Linked DNA regions of Homo sapiens: all the other regions are linked to region 1. The links come from fine-mapping of genetic effects on gene expression. A gene starts in region 1. Each other region holds a variant in brackets. All regions are shown on one strand. Distances are from middle to middle. Region 1 holds the start of URI1 (URI1 prefoldin like chaperone). Region 2 has its middle 58 kb from the start of URI1. Region 3 has its middle 120 kb from the start of URI1.

Evidence for each region. PIP is the estimated chance that this variant, and not a neighbour inherited with it, causes the effect. A credible set is the group of variants that fine-mapping cannot tell apart.
Region 2: its variant is the best candidate, but not a certain one, in a credible set for the expression of URI1 in thyroid (GTEx, PIP 0.73).
Region 3: its variant is the best candidate, but not a certain one, in a credible set for the expression of URI1 in whole blood (TOPMed, PIP 0.67).

Annotation. Positions count from the first base shown.
Region 1 is chr19:29,939,316-29,944,952 of GRCh38, forward strand. It overlaps URI1 (URI1 prefoldin like chaperone), which reads left to right and starts at 2,924. Exons shown (of 11, transcript NM_003796.3): 1 at 2,924-3,349. The coding sequence starts at 3,233. RefSeq lists an enhancer at 2,670-2,759 and a silencer at 2,780-3,449.
Region 2 is chr19:29,881,192-29,886,828 of GRCh38, forward strand. No RefSeq gene overlaps it. Among named protein-coding and RNA genes, the nearest start is that of URI1, 58 kb to the right of the region's middle. RefSeq lists an enhancer at 1,040-1,575. The variant C/T (reference allele first, on the strand shown) is at 3,461.
Region 3 is chr19:30,058,255-30,063,891 of GRCh38, forward strand. No RefSeq gene overlaps it. Among named protein-coding and RNA genes, the nearest start is that of URI1, 120 kb to the left of the region's middle. The variant C/T (reference allele first, on the strand shown) is at 2,841.

The DNA.
Region 1 (5,637 bases):
CCAGGCAGGAGTGCAGTGGCATGATCTCTGCTCACTGCAACCTCTGCCTCCCAGGTTCAAGCGATTCTCCTACCTCAGCCTCCCGAGTAGCTGGGATTACAGGTGTGTGCCACCACGGCGGCTAATTTTTGTATTTTTAGTAGAGATGGGGTTTCATCATGTTGGCCAGGCTGGTCTCAAACTCCTGACCTCAAATGATCCGCCTGCCTCCACCTCCCAAAGTGCTGGGATTACAGGCATGAGCCACTGCGCCCGGCCAAAGCTGATCATTTGAAAGTGTGATAAGTGCTACAAAGAAAATTTAAAAAGTGAGGTGAGGGCAGATGCCTAGAGGAGAGGGGAGGGGCTTTTGTGGACAGGAGATCAAGAAAGCCCTGTTATTATTTGAACTGAGGCCTGAGTAATGGCAAGGAGGCAACCATGGAAAGATATGGGAGAAATATTGCAGGCAGAGAGATCAGCAGGTGCAAAGGCCCTGAGGCAGGAACTAGTCTGGAGTATCTGAAGAAGAGAGAAATTGTTGTGGTTGGCTTGAGTGGTAGGGGGCTTGGTTGGAGGTGGGGAAGGTGGGTCCGACAATGCTGAATTCTAGTAGGATGTCTGGATTTGATTCTGGTTGCTGTGGGAAGCCATGGAGGGCCCTAGAAGGGAGACTGACATGACCTGATCCCCTTTGAAAAGCTCACCCAGACTGCTGAGTGGATAATAGTTTAGAGGTGTGCGAATTGGATGTCTTTGGCTGCTCATGATAGAAAATTGTCCTGGTCATTTAGAAAATTTACTGGCCTTTTAAACGGGAAGTTCAGAAGTGATGCAGACTCCAGAGCTGGTTGATTCAGCCCTGGATCAAGTTCTGTGATGCTGTCAAGGATTGGGTTCTGTTCTCAGCTCTGCTGACCACAGATCGCACTTCATTCTGAGTACTGGAGTGTCTAGGTGGTCTGGGGGGCTGTCTGATACACATGGGGCTACCTGCTTTGCACTTCCTGGCCAAGGGGATAGACTGATTCCTTATGGGAGCACTTTTGAAGAATGAGGAAGAACCTTCTCAGGAGAGGCGTGGTGGCTCTTGCCTGTAATCCCAGCACTTTAGGAGGCCAAGGCGGGTGGATCACTTGAGGCCAGGAGTTTGAGACCAGCCTGGCCAACATGGTGAAACCCTGTTTCTACTAAAAATACAAAAATTAGCCAGGTGTGGTGGCACGCGCCTGTAGTCCCAGCTACTCAGGAGGCTGAGGCAGGAGAATCGCTTGAACCCAAGAGGCAGAGGGTGCAGTGAGCCAAGATGGCACCATTGCACTCCAGCCTGGGCAACAGAGGAAAAAAAAAAGAACCTTCCCAGAAGCCTCCAGGAAGTCTCTGTTTGGACGACATCGCACACCCATTCTTGAACCAACTATTTAGAAGGGAGATGCATCACCCCCTTTGCCTGGAGCTAGGGGGTGGGTCAGCTTCCTACAGGCACAGGACTATGTGGTCGCGGGTTAAGCCCCTAAACGAGGGGAAGTGGGGTGGGCAGCAGCCGATCTCCATTACAAGGGACAAGAGTAGGGGCAGCAAGGCCAGATCAATGGTTGCTGAGGTGGCTGGGGATGGAGAGAGGATGGTGGTGGTAGAAGAGATGGTAACAATGGTCAGGTCCTGGCTGTTCCAGAGGTGATGATGGTTGGATATGCAGTGAGGAAAAGACAGGAATGAACATTTATCTTTTCCCAAGTTGTCCTTGCTTTCTTCCTTTGAAGCCATAAAAAGGAAAAAAAGGGTGGATCTGGACTTGGGAGCTGGGCAGGAGTGAGGGAAGAGAAGCAGAGCAAGCAGGCACACCAGGCTGTGACTCTGCAGGCATCTCTCTGCCTAGACTTGTCTGTATGATGTGGAACGAACACGACCCATCTTTACTGCTAGCGACTGCAGCAGATAAGGCAAGGCCACTTTCACGCAGTTAGGTTAATAGGAGGCTGTACAAAGGGCTGTAGGAGGAAGTGGGCACAGGAGTTCTAAAATAATTGGAACGGCCAGGTGTGGTAGCTCACACCTGTAATCCTAGCACTTCAGGGAATCCAAGACAGGAGGTTAGCTAAGACAGGAGGCTCGCTTAATGTCAAGACCAGCCTGGGCAACATAGGGAGACCCCGCCTCTACAAAAAATAGAAAAATTAACAGGATGTGTTGGTGCGGGCCAGTGGTCCCAGCTACTCCTGAGGCTGAGGTGGGAAGATCGCTTGAGTCTAGGAGTTTGAGGCTGCAGTGAGAAATGATGGCACTACTGCACTCCAGCCCGGGCGACAGACCAAGACTCAGTCTCTTAAAAAAAAAAAAAAAAAAAAGAAAAGTGGGGGCAAAGTTATCCTTGGAAAATTTCTTAGTCCATTCATAGCAGCATATTAAAATTAGTACAGTAGCTTAATTTATATAAGAGAAAATACAATGTGTACAGTAATTAATGAACATGCAAAATATAATTGTATATTTCAACTCACTAAAAAGGCACAGAAAGAGTTGAATTTGCTAAAATTAAATGTGCTTATGAAACAGCTCTAGTACATGAATTAAGCTCCTAGATACAGATGCAGCGCCAAACGACGGGGAGGGAGATGGGGCACTCAAGGCGACACGCGGCTCTTGTTGCCGAGCGTTTCCTGGGCGTGGAGCTTCTATAGAATGTAAGCTTTTTTTTTTTAAGGTTCCAAAGCCTATATTTAGTGCTTTCATATACGTAATCTCAAAAAAAAAAAAAGAAAGAAATATCGGCATAAAATGTAAGCTTCCAGAGGGATACAAACGCAGCCCAGCGCGGACACCGCCAGCCCCAGCCACGCGGTTCGCATCAAGCGCACTCCCCTGGGGGCGGGGCCTGCGCGAGCTGGGCGTGTCGGGGGCGGGGCCTGCGCGCTTGCTTCCGGCGTGCCGCGAGAGGCGGGGCGTGTGGGGAGGCGCGGCCGCCACGCGACGCCTGGCTGGGCCCGCACCGGAGAGGCGTCTCGGTACCTGGCAGGCGGCCTGCTACTCGGAGCCCGCTGCGGGGCGGCGGCGGCGGGGACATGCACGTGTGAGATGCGGCAGCGGGCGGCGCGGACGCGAACAGCAGCGGCGGCGGCGGGCGCGGCCTCCTGGGCGCGGGGCGCGCGGTGCCTGAGGGCGGGCGCGCGGGCGCTGGGCAACTGCCGGCCGCGCCGCCTGCGCAGGCGCTGGTTCAGGACTCACACGCCGCGCTGAGGCCCGCGGGCCCGTCATGGAGGCGCCCACCGTGGAGACGCCCCCCGACCCCTCGCCCCCTTCGGCCCCGGCCCCTGCCCTGGTTCCGTTGCGCGCCCCGGATGTGGCGCGGCTGCGCGAGGAGCAGGAAAAGGTAACTAGCAGCCCCGCGCCGCTTCCGCCTCCGCCCGCCGGGCTGCCCCTGCCTGTGCTCTGGGCCGCCGCCCCGCGTGGCCTAGGCCCAGCTGCCCGGGCCCCCGGAGGGAACGGGGATAAACTTTTGTCACGTGCTTCTGTTGTCTTTGTCTGCAGCCCTTTGACTTCGCAGCGGAGTGAGGGGTGTGCAGCCCGTTCGCCTGCCCAGGAAAGGGGGCTTCTGAGCTGAAGGCGTGCGGCAGCGCGTGGGAATTTGGGGGCGGGGGCAGCACGCTGTCAACGGAAGCGTTCGCCTTAATATTTGTAGCTTGTAATGACCTAAACATTGCTTAAAATGTGTACTGTTTGTTGCTCTTTGATTGCACGGAAAAGTTTTACCGCGTTTGTCATGATAATGCTTCCTGTGCAATATTTGGTTATTTAATATTTGTCACAATATAATGCCATTTAAACATTAAAAAAAAAAGAGAGTCTCACTATGTTGCCCAGGCTAATCTCGAACTTCTGGCCTCAAGCGATCCTCCCCCTCCTACCCTTCCCCACCTCGCCTCCCAAAGTGTTGGGATTATAGGCCTGAGTCACCGCACCCGGCTCATTTTTACAAATTTTAATTTCATCGTATAATAAATGAGTTTTAAACTACTGGTGAAAAGGGTACAAAGTTTTGTGTTTCCTAGTGGGACTTTATATAAAGAAGTATTCCCAATTTAAGAAATAGTTTTATTGTTAAATCTGATTTTTCTGTGGATTCTGTGGTCTTTCAGATTGATTCTGTCCCCTCAAGTGTCTTGAAATTGTTACTTTGAAAAGCAGTATTTAATTTGCTTAAAATATTTTATGTCATGTTTGGAAGAGCATGGATTATAAAGGGTTAGGAAGTTGCTTCAACACTATAAGCAGTTTAAAAGTTCTTAACTTTTTAATTGAACATTCCTGTATAAGAACGACTGTTTACATAGATACAAAAATATACTCAGTTCTACTAGATGGGGGTTTTGATAGAACTTAAAAAACCCTCGTTTGCTTGGAAACCACCTGTTGGGATGAACTGCGGGAATCTTTCTTTGTTCTGGTTGGTTTAAATTATTTTGTGGGTTGGATTTTCATTTCTCAGCCATTTTTCTCTAATAACGCAACTGTTAGGTTTGGAAGCCATGTTTTCAAGATGAAGGTTTAAAAATCCAGTGGCTAGGGTGGTGACTCAAACCTGTAATCCCAGCTGCTTGGGATGTCAAGGTCGTGGAATTGCTTGAAGCCAAGGAGTTCGAGATCAGCCTGGGCAACACAGGGAGACCTCCGTCTATACAAAAAAATACAAAAAATTAGCCGGGCCATGGTGGTGCACGCTTGTAGTCCCACGTACTTGGGAGGCTGAGGTGAGAGGATCACTTGAGCTCAGGCGTTTGAGGCTGCAGTGGGCCATGGTCATGCAACTGCACTTCACCCTGGGCGACAGAGTGAGACCCTGTCATTCATATATATATATATATATATATATATATATATATATATATATATATATATATAAAACTTAACTAGTTTGGCGTCTTTAAATTAGAAGACATTAATGTATTTTTTTAAAAGAGAAAGATAGAAAAAGAAGAAAGAAAAAACAGCCCCTCATGAAATCTTACTCCTTTTGCCAAAACTTGGCATTTTTTATTCTTTCAGAGAATGTGACACAGACCCTCAGAGGATGGTGTTTCTATTGCCTTTCCTCTGCTGCAGTGGGTTAATTTCACCTCCTTCAGTGTATAATACGTGCATAATGCTGACTTGATATGTTTTCTGCCATTTGGCATATTAAAAAGATATCCTTAGTTTTATTCTGATGTTAGTGTGACTGAAATGCAAAGGATACTTTTTGGGGTGCTCTGAACAGCTTTCTGGTATCGTGTTGAGTTACATTGGAAGAGAGAGTAACTGCTTTTTCAGTTACAGTCTTGTGGCAAACTGAATGACTGTTTTCTGTAGACATTGACTGTGCTACCAAATTATTTTTCTGTGTTGTGTTAATGTTAATTCGGCACACAAAATAACCACGTATATCTGTCATGGGTGTGTAAAATTATCCCCAGTTCAGGAAAAAGCGCGTCAGTATTTAATCTATCTTTATTTAATAGAAGCATTTGCTTCAGTGGACAGGAGACCCACAAGGCCACAAAATAAACTGATTAGATAGCTGCACTGTAATTATAGTGTAGTACAGGAAAACTACCCAGTAAATCGGCAGTGAAAATTTTTTGTGAAGCAATTTATTTAGGCTTTAAAGCTGGCCCAGTTGTG
Region 2 (5,637 bases), 58 kb before region 1:
GATCCTTCCATCTCAGCCTCCCAAGTACCTGGGAATACAAGTGCATGCCACCACACTCGGCTAATTTTTTGTTGTTGTTATTTTTTGTAGAGACAGGGTCTCACTATATTGCACAGGCTCGTCTTGAACTCCTGGGCTCATCAAGGAATCCTCCTGCCTTGACTGCCCATAACGCTGAGATTACAGGCATGAGCCACCTTGCCCCGCCTTGGGTGGACTCTTGACTGAAACACAGAACTTTAAGAGAAATGCAGAAATAAGAGAATGGGGGCTGCCATCCAATGCTTGATCATATTCGTCTCCTGCTTTGCTTTCTGATCCTGACTTCCCATGGAGGAATTCAGCCTTAGGAGCAGAAATGGGCTGTGGTTTCTAATCTGCCCCACATCATTCAGCACAGGGCTGGGCTGCGTGGCCTGTGACTAATCAGCGCTCACCCATAAGAAATGGTGTGCATCTGCAAATGTCGTGGTGTCCCTTGCAATGCCCTATTTCAGGTCTGCAGTGGGTGAGGGATGGGCAGGGAAGCACAGTGAATTATGTGACACCAGCCTGGAATGGCTTCATCCAACAAAGGGCTGACATTTTCTCTTGGTTTATTTTGAGATGGAGTCTCAAAAATCTGATTACAGATCACGCCTGTAATCTCAACACTTTGGGAAGTCAAGGCAGGAGGATTCCTTGATGAGCCCAGGAGTTCGAGACCAGCCTCTGCAACATAGTGAGACCCTGTCTCCACAGTTGCCCAGGCTGGAGGGCAGTGGCGCGATCTCGGCTCACTGAAACCTCCGCCTCTTGGGTTCAAGCGATTCTCCTGCCTCAGCCTCCCGAGTAGCTGGGATTACAGGCATGCACCACCATGCCTGGCTAATTTTTGTATTTTTAGTAGAGACAGGGTTTCACCATATCTGGTCTCGAACTTCTGACCTCAAGTGATCCCCCCAGCTGGGCCTCTCAAAATGCTGGGATTACAGACATGAGCCACCGGCCCGGCCAGGAGTGACATGTTCATTCCAAGAGCCCATCTCTGTTCCTGTATTATTTACAACGGACGCTGGCCTTTCGGACCCCCAAACATGTAAGTGGTTCTAGCTCGAGGAGAGGTGTGAGGCATGTGCTATGGGTTCAAGTCCCAGCTCTACCACTGAGTAGTGAAAGGCCTGGGGAAGCTCCTTAACCTCTCACAGGCTTACTTCCTGCCCCTGAGAAGTGGGAGCAGTGGGTAGCCCCAGGCGAGGGTGGGGGTTGGGGCAATGCCTGGCCCATAATGAAGCACCCTCTGCCGAGCCTCTGCGTGGCTGCCCCGAAGCCTGGGTGCAAGGCCCCTCTGTCACCTCTGGAGTACTTGCCTCCATCAAAGAAGGGAGCAGCTGCCTCCTGCCGGTGTTAGCCAGGCATAGGCTCTCTGCCCTCCCTGCCTGGGCTTTGTGTATTCTTGGTGTTCAAAAGGTATCTCTTGAATGATGTGTGAACAACTGGTAGAAACTCATCAGCACTTATGGAAATAGCACACCAAGTTGTCAACTGCCCGTAAACCCTTTGCCATCCCTCCGGTGGCAGCATGTTCCCCGCTGGTGGGGAGAAAGGGCCTTGCTTGGTCTCATGGACCAGCCAGGCAGGCAAGGAGGCCGCAAACACAGGACTAATAGCACCCTCGTGGCCTGCCCCCAGCCCTCATTTCAGAACGTGGCCCTTCCTGAAGCCGCTTTAGCTGGCTGGGGGAGGGGTGGGGTTGGAGGGGTGGAGACGGTAGCGGTTCTCCACCTTCCCTCTGCCCCGCTGTGCCGCCCAGCAGATGGGGAGTTAGCACGTCACAGGTGCAGCTCCACTTTGGTCACCTGGAGGCTCTGCTTGCAAATGTGGGGCTGGTGCTTGGAATTCAAGATGCCCAATAAAGGATCCATCCACAGCGGCTGCCCACGGGAGCCATCTCTCTGTGGCTCCCAGGAGCCAGGAGGGCCTGGAGCTGGGGACAGGGGGAAGTTCTGATTTTAAATTGGGGAATTCTGACATCAGCCCAGTCTCGTTCCCCAGAAAGAAACTGGTCCCGTCTGCCGTCTTTCCAGATAGTTCCTTCTGGAGCAGAAGTAGTCCAAATTCCAAACCTCTGATTACTGACATTTGCGGTTAGTTTTTTGGTATTATTTTTATACAGGAAAACTTGTTCTGAATAATGCAACTTTACACAGACACTCTCACCACTGGGCCTCACCAAGTCCTGATTTTCAAAACACTCAGAGCCCTTCCTGAGCTCACCTGAGAGATGCTGTCTTTGGAGTTTGTTCCTGATGAGTTTTAGAGAGCTTTTCTTTTTCTTTGTTTCTTTGTTTCTTTCTCTGTTTCTTTCTTTTTTTATTTTTGGTTTTGTTTTTTGAGATAGGGTCTTTCTCTGTCACCCAGGCTGCAGTGCAGTGGTATGATCTCCGTTCACTGCAACCTCGGTCTCCTGGCTTCTAGTGATTCTCCTGCCTGAACCTCCCAAGTAACAGGAATTACAGGTGTGCACTACCATGCCCAGCAAATTTTTTTTTTTTTTTTTTTTGAGACAGAGTCTTGCTCTGTCACCCAGGCTGGAGTACAGTGGCACGATCTTGGCTCACTGCAAGCTCCGCCTCCCAGGTTCACGCCATTCTCCTGCCTCAGCCTCCTGAGTAGCTGGGACTACGGGCGCCCGCCACCGTGCTCGGCTAATTTTTTGTATTTCTTTAATAGAGGCAGGGTTTCACCGTGTTAGCCACGACGGTCTCGATCTCCTGACCTCGTGATCCACCCGCCTTGGCCTCCCAAAGTGCTGGGATTACAGGCGTGAGCCACCGCACCCAGCCTCCAGCTAATTTTTATATCTACTAAAAGTAGAGATGGGTTTTCACCATGTTGGCCAGGTTGGTCTCGAACTCCTGACCTCAAGTGATCCACCTGCCTTGGCCTCCCAAAGTGCTGGGATTACAGGTGTAAGCCACTGCACCCTTCTTTTCTTTCTTTTCTTTCTTTCCTTCTCTCCCTCCCTCCCCTTCCTCCTTCTCTCCCTCTCACCTTTCCTTCCTTCTTCCTTCTTCCTTTCCTTTCCTTTCCTCTCCTTCTCCTTCCCCTTCCCCTTCCCATTCTCATTCCCTTCCTTCTCTCTCTTTCTTTCTTTTCTTCTTTCCTAAAGCAGGGGTTACACAAATTAAGGTGAACCGAATACATCTATATTTAGCAAGTGAATGCTTTAACTTCAACACACATAGATACTTCCTAGAAACCCTCCCCAACACAGCGACAACAGGCTGCATTGGGGGCTCATCAGGAATGAGTGGCCTGGGCAGAATGGCCCTCCAACCCCTCGCACTGCCCTGCCCATAACCGGCCCTGCCCTTGAGGGCTTTTGGGAAAAGGTAGGAGGGGCAGAAATAACCTTGACTTTCAGCCAAGGCAGAAGAGCCAGAGGATGGCTGCTGCTCCTGGCCTGCGCACTGCGGCT[C/T]CTGGAAGCCAAGACGGGCAGGCTTGTGTGGCCGCGGTGAGCAAGGAGGGCAGCCATCCCATGCAGATGTGTGGGAGGGGCGGGGAGGCAGCCAGGAGTAGCTGTGTCAGGCAGGCCAGGCCAAGGTCCTGGACTGGCCTCCTTGAAAAGCAGCCCCTCATCCCTGATAGCCCAGGGTTGCGGGGAGCCATTGGGGGATGGTCTGAGATGATGTCTCCGGACCCCGTGCAGGAGTTTTGTTACGACAAATCTAGTCCCTTCTCAGCTCCTATGGTGACAAGAAGCTCCAGCTATTTTATTTTGTTTTGTTTACTTTAGAGATGGGATTTTGCTGTGTTGCCCAGGCTGGAGTGCAGTGGCCCCATCTCAGCTCACTGCAGCCTCAAATTCCTGGGCTCAAGCGATCCTCCCACCTCAGCCTCCTGAGTACCTGGGACTACAGGCATGTGCCACAACGCCTTGCTAATATTTTGATTTTTAAAAAATTTATTTTTATGTATTTATTTTTTGTGTGGAGATCTGGAATTCTTGGGCTCACACGATCCTCCTTCCTCGGCCTCCCAAAGCACTGGGATTTCAGGCATGAGCCCCACAGTCCAGCCAGCTCCAGCTTTTATTTACTTTTTATTTTTTTGAGACAAAGAGTCTCGCTCTGTCACCCAGGCTGGAGTGCAGTGGTGTGATCTCAGCTCACGCAACCTCCACCTCCTGGGTTCAAGCGCTTCTCATGCCTCAGCCTCCAGAATATCTGGGACTACAGGTGTGTACCACTACACCTGGCTAATTTTTGTATTTTTTGTAGAGACAGGGTTTCGCCAGGTTGGCTGGGCTGGTCTCAAACTCCTGGCCCCAAGTGATCCCCCACTTTGGCCTCCCAAAGTGTTGGGATTACAGGCGTGAGCCACCGCACCTGGCCCAGCTCTAACTTTTAAACCTGCTCACTGGCTGGCTCTCTTCTCGACTTCTTGGGACCTGAGTTGTCCTTCATCTCTGTGACCTACCTGACAGGTGTTTCTGGGGTCCAGCCTGAAGCACCTGGCTGGTGAGATCAGAGTCCAATTCTCACCCTCTTCCCAGGACCCCCTCCCAGCTCCTGAGCCTGTCAACCCTGGCTATGCACAGCCCTCGCCTGAGAAGCGTCTTCAAAATTCTAGTGCCTTCTCCTCCCTTCAATTCCAGGATAATGGCACACACAGCACCAGTCAGGCCCTGGCCTGTGTTGCAGGCACACCTCCGATACATTTTGACCTGCATGCCAACTGCAGAACCTAAACCCAGGCAGGGGTCACTCCCCAGCAGGGTGCTGAGGTTCAAAGAGCTCGAAGGAAATACCTGCCTGGGAAGACAGGTGACAGGTGACTGAGTTCCTCTCCAGAACTTTCCAGACAATAATCAGGCTGTGTGTCAAATTCACCAAGATTTAGCTCCAGACCCAGCTGATCTGCAGCCAGGATGCTATTGGGAGCATCACTGCTTCCGTCTTTGACCCATCTTTCCACGTGGCCCCCCAGACAGAGAGCACTTCCAACCTATGCATAAAAATACAGGGGAAAGGCCAGGTGCAGTGGCTCATGCCTGTAATCCCAGTACTTTGGGAGACCGAGGCCATTGGATCACTTGAGGTCAGGAGTTCGAGACCAGCCTGGCCAACGTGGCGAAACCCCGCCTCTACTAAAAATATAAAAGTTAGCTGGGCATGGTGGTGGGCACCTGTAATCCCAACTACTCAGGAAGCCAAGGCAGGAGAATCACTTGAACCCAGGAGGTGGAGGCTGCAGTGAGCCAAGATCATGCCAGTTATACAACAGCCTGGGTCTGTCTCAAAAAAAAAAAAAAAAAAAAAAAGGGAGCAGAGCGGGGGAAGAAAAAAAAAAAAACCCAGAGAGCACTGTTATTTACCCTGATGCCTCATTTTCAAGCATGCATTGTGAATAGAGCTGACCACAGTAGCACAGGTCTCACCGTAGGCCTCCAGGAACACCCTGCAACCTCAGTCTGCCCCTCCACATTCATTTCCAGGAAACTGGAGTTGATCGTTAATTCTCAGACATCCTTTGGTGCAGACTGGAGGATATCAATGAACATGAACACATGCGAGAGTTCCTGTACGGAGCTGTGGACCATAAACCACGCATGCTGTCCCGGTGGCAAGTCAGGGGGCTTTCTGGGTAGTTCTG
Region 3 (5,637 bases), 120 kb after region 1:
CACCACCACACCTGGCTAATTTTTGTATTTTTACGGGGTTTCACCATATTGGCCAGGCTGGCCTCAAACTCCCGACCTCGTGATCTGCCCACCTCAGCCTCCCAAAGTGCTGGGATTACAGGCATGAGGTTTGTTAGATTCTTTTGTAAGTACTTGATATTATCTGTTGATGTGGATCTCATTGCCAGGTAGCTCTTCTAGCTGCTTCTGTTTATTCTCCTTTTCTCTTAGCAGAGTATTGGAATGAGGCTGTTGAGAGCTGGGCTGAAGGAATGTTTTGGGAATGGATGGTCTGGCCCATTTGCTGTTGCCTGAGCAAGCTGGTGAGGATCTCTGCTCTGGGCTCATTTGGGAGGAGAGCCTCTCCTTTTCTCTGGGGAAGTGTCGTGGGTGCCCTGGGTGAAGCAGGGAGGAACTGGTGAAGGGAGAAACACCCAGCTAGGAGACACTTTGTAGGGAGGAGGTAGGGGCTCCCAAGATTCATGCTTGAGTACTGGCCCTGCAGTCTACCAGCTGAAGACTTCAAAAAAAGACTTAACCTCTTTGTCCTCTATTAGCAAAGGCGCTCAAAGGTGAGGTTCACAGGAGGAGATTTCTGCACAGAGTTTAGAACAATATGAGGGATTTTCTTTTTATTTCCTTACCAGCTGAGATTGGTGAGCCATTCACATTGACAGAATGCTCATGACAAATGAACAACCACAGAGGCAAAGCCAGGCTAAAAATCGTCACAAAACAGAACAGATGTTCCCACCCTCTGAAGACAGAGTTGTAGTTTCATAGGCCTCAAGATGGAAAGATTCATCCGGGGAGCATAAACTAAGGGGACACTGAGCAGTGCCGCTTCTGGGGCTTTGAGAAACTGAGTACTACTTGTTCCCTTCTATGGCAGAATGCTAAGGAGAGGAGCCGTCATTGCAATGTGAATAGAGGCAACTGGGAATTGCATTAAAGGGACTTCAAGGATCTCCCAGCTTCATTCTGCGGACAGCCAATGTAGAACCCTGCCTCAGTCCCAATCTATGTAACATTCATCTCTAACCCTTTCTTGGCCTCGTGGTAGCTTTCCTCCAATACTCCAATTGGGGCCTTTGCCATGATGACATCAGGATATTTTTTAAGTTCCCCTTGGATTGCATCGAGGCTTCTCTATGTTGCTTGAGAGGGGCTGCCCATCTTGCAAACTTTAAAGCACAGTGAAAACAACCTTCCACAAGCTCCCGGAAACTCCCTGATGCCTTTCTCTGAGGTAAAGGTCTTTAGATGGTACCTAGTTTTGTGTTAGAAGCTTTCACACCAAGCAGCCAAAAAGGCTCCATCCTCACCTGATTTGTGGTCCCCAGAAAGGAGCCTGCATTAGGCCGATAAGTCATCATCCAGAGAGGTGATGACAGTCGTCTCCATGACCATTGATTAATGAAAACAGGGCTAGTTGGACCCAGAGTAGATGGTTATAAATGGTGCTGTCAGAGAAAAATAATTATTGTATTAATAAGGAAACAGTCCAAAACCAGGCTCTAAAAAAAGAGAACTGGCAACTTAGCATCTCCATGGATTTCTGAGGCAGACTTGACGGAATAGTGGGGAGGTTGGGGGAAGGTATTCTAGCTCCCCCACCACCCGCCTCTCCAGAAGGCAGCCCCTCCTTGCCTGTGCACGTGCCCACGTCCACGCGTGGATGCGCGGTGGGTGCGCTCGACCTGACCCAGCTCTCCCGGGATGCGGCAGATGAGCCGGGGTTGCGTGGAGGCTTTCGGTACCACTTCCAGCAGGAACGGAGAAAAACGAGCATATCTTATTGTACCTGAAACACTCTATGATATGTACTAAATATTATGACTACTCGGGGCCTTGCAATAATTGATTCACCCACACAGCCATTTAGTCTGCGAGCTGTTCGTTTTACAAATTCTACAATCTTTTAGAAATTCTTTCAGTGCGGAAGATTGCTGCCTGGCCTCAGATTCATTATGGTGATTGAATCCTCTTCAATAGAGAACGGTTTAAAGAGAGCACAGGCCCCGTGCGTCTCACTCAGAGTTAAGGCGCATAGGTTAAAAGCTTGTCTGGTGGCATAATTCACTGCCGCTATGCCAAACAATCACGTCTTATTGTGACCTTCATAAGATACAAAAAGGCAACAGGATAGAGCTTGGCTTTTTTTTAAACCCACTCACAGATTTAGCTTCCCAACATCTGAAGCTTGGAGAATTCCTAATTAAATAACCAATTAATAATGTAGAATAGAAAAAGCTATTTTTTTTCTGAAATGCAAAATCATAATTAATCAGAGTACAAAAAGCTGCCTGTCTTTATATCAGAAAAATATAGACTAGGTATTTAAATATTCCACCACACCTGAACCCTGGCCATCCGTCATTGCTATGACTTAAAACATCTCAGACTAAATTAGGTTTTGTTTGTATAGAGCAGTGAAAGTCAGATGGCTTGAATGACAAAATTAGAACATGCTCAAATCACTGAGACAAAACCGCATAAAGAGAAAGATGTGCAGGAAAAGGGCTGCCAGTATGAAGCAGAAATCTTCCACTGATTTTTTTTTTTGAAAAAAAAAAAAAAAAAGCGTTCTTTCCTATTTACCCAACCACTTGGTGTAAGTATAAATTTTTGACCCCCAGGCAGACATTCCAGGAAAAGAAAAATTATCCCCACCCCCTTGTCAATTGCCCAAAATAGCATGCACAGCTCTAAACAAGTACCCTCCCCATCACGTCCCCCACCCCAGTTTCTCCACCCCGGGTTGGCCCTGGCCCTGGTGTCTACACCCTCAGCAGACCCGCCCACCGCTCCAGCCCACGCCCAGCCCCCGCCCACTGATA[C/T]TGTCAGTAACACCAGACACCAGCCGCTAAGGTTCTCCCCCCACCCACCCGGGCACTCCGCACCACCTCCAAGCGCATTTATAGTTGGAAAGAAAAGCTCATTTTTATAGGTGGTGCCACCTCCACAATTTATACTTTGCCCATGAAATACCAAAACCAGGGAGTCAATTTTCCAAGGAAGAAATTTTATAAAAACACTTTTATTGATGGAAGAGATCTGCAGAGACGGTCGCCATCTGCAAGGAAGCGAAGGCTCTTGCAGGTGCGGGTTGATCCAGGGCTGCCCAAGCGTCCCTCACTCAGGACCACGCGCCCAGGCACTAAGCATGTTATTTCTGTGTCTTCCGAACATGCTAAGCATTTCCTTACCCTCCGGCTTTTGCTCCTGCCGTTTCTTCCTCGTGGAAGTGAATATTTGAAACCTACCTGGTCTTCCCAAGGTGGCCCAGTTATTACTGTGTGACGACTTCTTCCTGGCTTCCCTGGTGAAAAGCTGTTCCGTCCTGCCTGCAGGTCCCTGTGTTACTTTGCTGATCACATTCTCCCTCGTGTCTGTGGGTGTGGACTCTACCCATGACTTCCCTGTCACCTGGGGGCCGGTGCCCTGAGCCCAAGCCAGCCCTGCATCGGGGCTGGGCACAGGGTGTACTCAGGCGATGGTGGGGCCACAGTGCAGGTTTAGAGGGGCCCTCTCTCCACCCACGATGCCACCAGCCTCTGTCCCACCCTACGCCACAAATCTCCTTCAATATATAATTTGCTGTTATCATAGCAATAAATAATTTTTGGTGACGTTTTTACTGTTGAGACTTTGTGCGGTGTTTTTTTATTGACAAAACCGCTATGAATCAACATGAACACAATAAAAACGTGAGAGCTATCTGCATTACGGCTGAGGTTTTGTCAATAGGGCAGTGCATTGATCTCCGTTCCTCTTTGGGGTTATTTGTGGAGCTTCAGCGGGTGGGTTTAGGAGCTACAGTGCTCAGGAGGTGCAGCCCCGGGCCTGGCGTTTCCTGCCACACTCCCCTGGGCACTGCCTCCCTGAAGATGGCACAGCCACAGAGAAATCTCAGCCTTGCGGGGCAAAGGGAAGAAGACAGGGAGCTGGGAGAGAGTGTGCTCACCTATCTTCCTTCCTTCCCTCCCTTCCTTCCTTCCTTCCCTCCCTCTTTCCTCACCTCTCCCTTCCTCCTCCTTTCCTTCCCTCCCTCATCAACCAAAGCAACCAGTCCATTGCCTGGCGCATCAGGAGCTGTGTCCTGGGGGCCTGGGGATCAGCCCTCGCCAGCTCTCAGGGTGCTCCCATCTGGAGGAGGCACAGACCTGCAGACAATGGGTCCTCCTGATGGGCACCGTGTCCCAGGGGGTATGGGGGTCAGCCCTGGCCAGCTCACAGGGTGCTCCCATCTGGAGGAGGCACAGACCTGCTGACAGTGGCCCCTTCTGATGGGTGCTGTGTCCTGGGGGAATGGGGATCAGCCCTGGCCAGCTTGCAGGGTGCTCCCATCTGGAGGAGGCACAGACCTGCGGACAGCGGCCCCTCCTGAAGGGGGGTGCTCAGGCACTCACCGCCACCATTGACCGAGTGCCTCCTGCACACCAGACTTGGGCTGGGGTCTGGCTGTGACTGCGGTCCCTGCTGTCAGAGCAGGGCATGGAGGGCAGGCGACGTTAAAAACATAATCACCCATAAAAGCCTGTTGCTCCCCAGAGTGGTGAGGTATCTAAGGGATGCCCCGGGGTGCTCTTAGTAGAAAGCGGGGGGTCTGCCCTGGTCGGGAGTGGGAAGGCTCCTAGATGTGGTGTCTGTACCAGGCTCACAGGAGCCTGGAGTGCTCCTGGCAGGCACAGCACCTGGAACAAGCCCAGTGCCTTCGGGGAGCTGCGAGGGGGGCCTCTGGCTGGAGCAGGTCAGGGCAGGCGAGGAACAGGGAGCCAATTGTGGTCAAGAGGGTGGGGGGTGAGGCTGGGACGGTTTCTAAAGGGGCTGGGGCCCTGAGTTTTTCCGGGCAGCAGGAGCCAATGTGACAGGGCTCCATCCCTCTGCTATCCCCACCTAGCCACCCCCTTGCTGCCACCATGGGCCTATCCTCTCCGGGATCCCTTCAGACCATCCCTGCCCAGACCCAGCCCTGGGTTACCCTCCCCGCCACCCTCCAGGTGGGAGACCAGGCCTGTACACCCTCCAGGGCACACGTCTGCTCCCCACTCTCCCCCCAGGGCCTCGCAGGGGAGCCTGCCCAGCCTCACCTGCCCACAGGCGGGAAGCACAGGGGACTGTCCCCCCATCACACCATCCCTGCACTGGGGTTGCCTCTTGCTTACAGCCCCCATCCAAATCCTACCCTCTATGGAGGCCCAACAGAACCACCCTCCTCCAGGCAGCCTTCCTGGATTGTGCTGCCTTCAGGGCAGGGCCAGGAAAGCCAAGACTCTAGGGAGGGAGAAGGGGCCTGTCGCCAGTGGTGTGGTCCCCAACCTGCCCAAGGCCATCAGATCCACCTCCCTCCCTCCCTCCCTCTCTGTCATTTTTAGGGACTGGGCTTGCCACACTAATGATGTCTGGGGGCTGCTGGTTCATGTCCCCAGTTTAGTGAGGAAAACAGACCCTGACCCAGGCCTGGGGGTCCAAGCGAGGGGCCAGCAAGGGCAGGGTAGAGCGTGGTGTCCCCACAGACCCGGGGTCCCTCCGGAGTTCAGCAGGCTGTGGAGTCGCTGGCCAGCCAGCCATGAATCCCTGCACAGTGCCTGTGCAAGTCACCCACTTGCCTGCCCTGTCACGATGCTCCATGAG